2 linked regions of the Homo sapiens genome follow. The protein of the gene in region 2 purifies or fractionates together with the protein of the main gene of each other region. This does not show direct contact. Each region holds a gene or a part of one and is shown on either strand. Other genes may lie near its edges.

Region 1 (3,500 bases), about 90 Mb from region 2:
ATTATAGTTCTCATAGCAAACTTTTGCTTTCTAAAATATTCTCGAGTTTGAACTTACAGTACTGTACTAACCCATGAAAAATCATGTTGTTCATGAATCACCTGAAGAAGCCATCTGTTGAGGTGGACTCCAGCAGCCAAAGAGAGCAGGCTTGTGTGTCCTGCTCCTCCCCGTCCATGGGTAAAGTGTTGTTAGGGAGTCTCATGCTTTAACACCCATTTTTTGTTTGTTTGGTTCTGTAGTTTTAAGTCATCTAGATTTCTAAACTCATATTAATAATTGGATGTTATGATTGTACTTTCTTACGCAGTTATGCTTTGTTAGTGGAAGAAAGTAGTAATGGTATTGAAAAGAACATCTGTGCAAGACAAAAAGATATGGAAACAGAAGTACAGGGAAAAGCTAATGATTATCTTCAGCAGCATAATAATTAATCTACAAAGTAATGATTCAGTCTTCCATCAGAGTGGCCACGGCAGCTGCAGAGATGGGAACTCTTTGTTCTCATTAAATTATCTTGTTAGGTCATTCCAGAACTCTCTCTGTGTGGTATTCTAAGGGCTTTCAGAGGGTCTTTCTGGGTCAGTTATTGAAGCTCTTTATGAGGCATCTGGACAATATATGGCAACTACATAGGACAAGGGTCAGCAAACTTCTGTAAAGGACCAGATAGTGAATATTTTCAGCCATACAGTCTCTGTTGCAAGTAGTCAGTTCTATTGTTGTAGCATGAAAACAGCCATAGACAGTATATGCAATATGAGTGTGGCTGTGCTCCAGTAAAACTTGACTTACAAAAACAGGCTGTGGGCTACAGTATTGTACTTTACCAATACTTGACATAGAAGAGGGGCATTAATGTGCCTGGAATGTGCCTTCCTAGTGAGACTTCATGAGGGGATTGTGGTATATAGGTTAAGGGTATGAACTAGCCCAACTGGGTTTAAATCCTGGTGCCGGCACTTATTAGCTGTGTAACCTTAGGCAAGCTACTTAACCTCGCTGTGCCTCAGTGTCCTCATGCTTCACATAAGGATAATTATAGTACCTCTGTCACAGGGTTATTATGAGGAATGAATAAATTAATATTTTTAAAGTATTTAGAACAGTACCTGGCACACAGTAAGTACAGTAAATAAAATGTGTTTAATAAATAATCTGAAAAATATGAATTTGATTACATAAAATAAAATTACTTTATTTAAAGATTGTGTCTCCTGCTAGGCACGGTGCCTCACGCCTATAATCCCAGCACTTCGGGAGGCCAAGGCTGGTGGATCACTTGAGCCCAGGAGTTCGAGACCAGCCTAGGCAACATGGCAAAAACCCTCTCTACAGAAAAATAGCTGGGCATGGTGGTGTGCACCTGTGGTCCCAGCTACTTGGGAGGCTGAGGTGGGAGGGTCGCTTGAGCCCAGGATGTGGAGGCTGCAGTGAGCTGAGATCATGCCACTGCACTCCAGCCTGGGCAACAGAGCAAGACCCTGCCAAGAGAAAAAAAAGACTGTGTCTTTTCACATTCCACCAATATACTGATAGCATCTGTCTCTCTGCATTCTCAATAGCATCAAATATTATTACAGTGGGGGAAAAACCTTTGATAATCTTGTTGGCAAAAATGCGTATTTTTTTGATTACTAGTGAGTTTATTTATTTATTTTTTTATTTTTCGAGATGGAGTCTTGCAGTGTCTCCCAGGTTGGATTGCAGTGGCGCAATCTCAGCTCACTGCAACCTCCATCTCCCGGGTTCAAGCGATTCTCCTGCCTCAGCCTTCTGAGTAGCTGGGACCACAGGCGCGTGCCACCACACCCGGCTAATTTTGTATTTTTAGTAGAGACAGGGTTTCACTGTGTTGGCCAGGCTGGTCTTGAACTCCTGACCTCATGATCCTCCCGCCTTGGCCTCCCAAAGTGCTGGGATTACAGGTGTGAGCCACTGCGACTGGCCAGTGAGTTTAAATATTTAATGAGTCTTGGCACTTTTTCCTTATTGAGCTCTATGAGCTTTTTCTGTAGAAGATATTAACTGTTGGAGCTTCATGTTCTCAGGTACCCTATCTTGAGTCTATAGTGAACCTTTTGAAGTTGAAAAGAGTATTTTTGCCTCAATTATAAAATCTGTATTGTTCCATAATCTTAATTAAGCTGATAAAACTTGTTTGTGCATCTTTGTGCTCATGTGGCAATAGATGGGGTTAGGGCTTGGTTTCAGTTTGCCTAGGGTTAAAGGAGGTTCACATCCTTTGTGTTACTGTCCAGTTTCCCCGCATGCAGTCAGGTTAGCTCTGTGAGGAGTGCCTGGTCATCTGTAATTCAGACATTAAGGAAGTACCTGGTGTGTGCTAGAAACAGAATGCAGAGTTCAGGCCAGGGTGAGGATTTCTGCCCTCAGGAAGATCACAGCCTTTTGACAAAAGAGGAGGCACCATTTGCCTAGTGGAAATCAGCTTCAACAAAAAAATCACCTGCTTTTCTCTACAAGTCCCCGGAAGAGATCAGTAGATAAAATCCAAATCCCACACCTGTCCTCCAGAGAGATGATTATTGTTAGTTACTGAGAAGGGAAATGGATGAAAGGCATATGTGGCACAGGGGTCACCGCAGGATGCAGAGGTCTTAGGGGGTGTGCCGTGAAAGGCCAGCTCTCTGTCAGAGGCTCTGCTCCTTTGTCGGAGCACGTGCCCTCAAGTCAGCTCCACTGCAGTGTGCGCTGGAACCTGAGAAGTTGCTGAGTAGCCGAGGAGTGGCTCCAAGGAGCCTGGAAAGCAGTCCTCCTTTGAGGACCATTCAAGGTGGAGTGTGACGTTTTGTCGATTCTTGAAAGGGAATTGGGAGGAAAGAGGAGGAATAAAGGGATGGGTGTAGGGCTGTGTGTACAGCATTTTATGTGTTTTCTGATTTATCTTCACAACTTTGAGACAAACTGTCACCCCCAGTTCACAGATGATGAAACAGATTCAGAGTGACAGAAGGACCAAGAGAGTATTCAAGATTGAACCCAAATCTGTCTCTCCCAAAGCCATGCTCTTCCAGGTCACACCTGTGCCTTGATCTGTCTTTATGTCAGGATCTGTGCAGTGGGGCATCTGGGTTTGAATGTTTTTTTAAGTACTATGATTGTTGGATAAATTGTCATATGAGATAGAAATAAGGCCATGCTGCAAATTTTGAAAATGTACAGCTTGATAAATGGGGGCAAACATGATCCAGGGTAAGAAGGGGCAATTTGGTGACTTCACAAAAGATACCATTTAATGAAAATTTACTAGTTTTTTGTTTTTCTGTCTCCCAAAACAGGACACTCCTGGGTTTATTGTGAACCGCCTCCTGGTTCCATACCTCATGGAAGCAATCAGGCTGTATGAACGAGGTATCCTTCTGACCCAGGCCAGGAGCAGCAGACCTCAGCTCCTGGCGCCACTGTCTGGAATTCTCAGTGTCTCTAGGAGGGGTCGGGCCGTGCACAATGGAGGAAGCAGTGTCTGTTTTCTAGCTTTG
Region 2 (3,500 bases):
CAGCTTCCTCACCTGAACTGTCCTGCCCCACTCTCTTGTACTGTAACTTCTAAGCAACCTGCAGGACTCTCCTTAGGCTCCAGTCTTTTTTTGAGACACAGTGTCTCTCTGTCGCCCAGGCTGGAGTGCAGCGGTGCGATCTCAGCTCACTGCAACCTCCATCTCCCAGATTCAAGCAATTCTTGTGCCTCAGCTTCCCGAGTAGCTGGGATCACAGGCACGCACCACCACTCCCAGCTAAGTTTTGTACTTTTAGTAGAGATGGTGTTTCGCCATGTTGGCCAGGCTGGTCTTGAATTCCTGACCTCAAGTGATCCACCTGCCTCAGCCTCCCAAAGTGCTGGGATTACAGTCATGAGCCACCATGCCTGGCCTAGACTCCATATTCTTATTAAAATTTTTATTTTAGAGATGGGTCTTGCTATGTTCCCTAGGCTGGCCTTGAACTTCTGGACTTGACAGACCCTCCTGCCTGCCTCTTGAGTAGCTGCAAATAGAGGTGTGCACAATCGCACCAGCAGCTTCATATTCTTTGGCAGTCCCCCTCATCCCTCTGATCCTGCAGTACCCTCTGCAAATGCCATTTACCTCCCTATTCCTTCTTACAACATCCTCACTTTCTGCAAGGACAAGGACCACTTCATGCATCTTTGTATGATAAATTCCAGGCACACCAGAGGGGCTGTCATAACCACTATTTGGTGACCAAAAAGATACTTTTATAGAACCTAAACATTGCTATAGATTAAACATATACTAACCATTCCAGAAATTTTATCAAGCTCTAAGTACTGTGCTTTCTACAGACTATTAATTTTTCTTCACTCTGTCTAAACCATAGATGCTTTCCTGAAAAACACGAACTCTAATCACAATTAAGTACTAAAGAATTCTTTTAAATGGAAGTACCCTTGGGAAACAACTTTGACAATAAAGAATTCTTTAGGTCAAACAAATACCTGTTCATTTGTTTTAATTATAAATTCCCAAATGCTCAGAGTTGGTTTGCTTAAAGGGCTGGAGATCCCAAGAGAGCGACGGAACTGGACGAGCAGGCTTTCAGCTCCAACAGCCTCCCACTGACACAGCATTCAGGGACACCTGGGAGCACCAATGCTGGAGTCTAGGCTAAGGGAATCTATGAGGCAGAAATTCTCATCCCATGTCTAGTTAGGCATGCTGTGTTCTTCATTTGTGTCCAAAAGTGATGATAGGAATAATTCACCAAAATAAGCCATGTGAAGTTCCTCAAAAAGTTAAACAGAACTACGATTTGATTCAGCAATTCAACTCCTAGGCATATACCAAAAAGAAATAAAAGGTAAAAACAACCAAAGTGTCCATCCCCTGCTGGCTTTAGGGAATGGGAAACAGGGAGTAACTGCTAATGGGTATAGGGTTTCCTTTGGGGGTTATGAAAATGTTCTAAAATTGATTGTGGTCATGGTAGCACAACTCTGTGAATATTCTAAATACCAGGCCGCATGGCGGGGTCATGGCTGTAATCTCAGCACTTTAGGAGGAAAAGGTGAGATTGCTTCAGCCCAGGAGTGTAAGACCAGCCTGGGCAACACAGCGGGAGACCCATCTCTACAAAAAATTAAGAAATTAGCTGGGCATGGTGGCACACACCTGTAATCCCAGCTATTGAGGAGGCTAGGGTGGGAGGCCTGAGCCCAGGAAATTGAGCCCATGTTCATGCCTCTGCCCTCCAGCCTGGGCAACAGAGCAAAACCTTGTCTCAAAAAAAAAAAAAAAAAAATCACTGAATTGCACACTTTGCATTGGTGAATTCTATGGCATGTTAATTGTGTCTGAATAACACAGTTATGAAATATACACATACATAGTATATCATGGCACTCTCTCTCTCAAAGGCAAGGAAAGATAGAAAGAACCTCAAACTCAGCTCTATTCCAGCTCCCCATGTGGACCCAAGTGGGTCATCTCAAATCTCTGGTCTCAAGTTATTCCTCTAAAAAGTGAGGGAGCTGGATTTTAGGATCTCAAGGGCTCCTTCTGGCTGTAACATCTCGAGTCTGTGACACAATCCTGAATTACCTGATATGGACCTCGGTTTTACTACTAGCACTTTTGAGATTCTTCTCAATAATTTCAGCAAATCTGGTTGGCGTCATCTCATTGGCTGGCGTCTCCATCAATTGGCGTGCCAAGTTCTGCCCAGAAGCAAACAGGACTCCTTTCTGCCAGGCCTCCTGATCCCCACTGGCAGAAGAAAGATAAAGTGACTGTCAAACAACCTCTCAAGAACGCTGACTGCCTGCCAACTAAGAGACACTCTTACCTTACAGAAAACAAAAGAGGAAGACTACAAATCAAAAACAATTGGCACACAGGACCTGGATTCATTTTTTGTGATCTGACCCAGGGCAGCAGATGGTATGGTGCAGAAAGCTAGAAAACATGGCCACACAAAGCAGAACCAGAGGGTATCCGGTCAGGCACTTCCCTTCAGAATCCTCATCTACATGAAAAAGGGCCTGTGCTGTGGGGTCTTTGAAGCTCTAAATCTACCACATAAATGAAGAGAAGAGGCTTCCACAGAAAAGCCCGTTTTGTTCTCCTTCACTGTATCAGGAATGCTGCAGCCCCAAGTGCTAACTGCAAAGCAAGCGTATGGCAATGGCTCTAACGTGGCAACTGAAGACCTTTTTGCTTTCTTTTACCTAAGTCGGGGCTCCAAATTCCAACCCATTCGTAAGCAGGACCAGCTTTAGAAGAGAAAGGATACAGGCACGTGTTTCACAACCCTGGCTCTTCCTATGGCAGCACAGAGGTGGGTGAGTAACAGTAGATGGCCTAGAAGGCCTGCCACATGCCCCCTACTTGATGTGCTCTTTTGGATGATGATACAAACCCCATGAAATCGGTATTACAACTCTAGTAAACAAATGCAGAAAATGAAGCACAGAGATTTCAGCCACGTAACCAGCAAGGTCCCCCAACGAGTAAGTGGTGAAGCCAGGACTTAAGCCCATGCTGACTGGCTGCAGAGCCCGCACTCTCCCCCACTCCCCACAGCTGCCAACCCTTGGCCAGTGCCAGGGCCCCCACTGTGCTTGGCACCATCTGCTGAAGGTCTCATCTTATTTATTCCTGATGGCAGGGACCCCACTAGCCCACAAGGGCAAGGACCAAGCATCCAGAGGATCTCTTCATCTGTGTGGTGCTTGCATTTAGCACAAGGCCAGCAGGTGCCAGGTAAATGAATGAACATTATCTGGGTTGAAACCTGTGGGATATGTCTGTCATGTCATTCCTCCCTCTCAGGTAAGAGCTACCTGGTTATGGCTTCCTTGTAATCAGAGCAGGGAGGGGTCAGGGAGTCATGGGGGAATCAGACATATGCCGAGAGCCAGGAGCAGAGCTTGGGCTTAATTTTGACCACATTATTAAAATGGCTGAGGCAATGGGGAGGTCACAGCCAAGCCACGCAGCTGTGGGTGGCGCTGAAAAGCAGGCAGCTCATATCCCAAAAG

The links. Proteins that work in one complex are often made in the same cells at the same time.
Region 1: the proteins of LAP3 (region 2) and HADH fractionate together in Homo sapiens (co-fractionation; one large-scale study listed by BioGRID). This does not show direct contact.

Annotation. Positions count from the first base shown.
Region 1 is NC_000004.12:108,024,389-108,027,888, forward strand, and holds part of HADH (hydroxyacyl-coenzyme A dehydrogenase, mitochondrial isoform 2 precursor), read left to right. Parts: intron 1-3,299; coding exon 3,300-3,372; intron 3,373-3,500. UniProt on the Homo sapiens protein: Mitochondrial fatty acid beta-oxidation enzyme that catalyzes the third step of the beta-oxidation cycle for medium and short-chain 3-hydroxy fatty acyl-CoAs (C4 to C10).
Region 2 is NC_000004.12:17,583,698-17,587,197, reverse strand, and holds part of LAP3 (cytosol aminopeptidase), read right to left. Parts: intron 2,227-3,500; coding exon 2,062-2,226; intron 957-2,061; exon of another isoform or gene 1-956. UniProt on the Homo sapiens protein: Cytosolic metallopeptidase that catalyzes the removal of unsubstituted N-terminal hydrophobic amino acids from various peptides.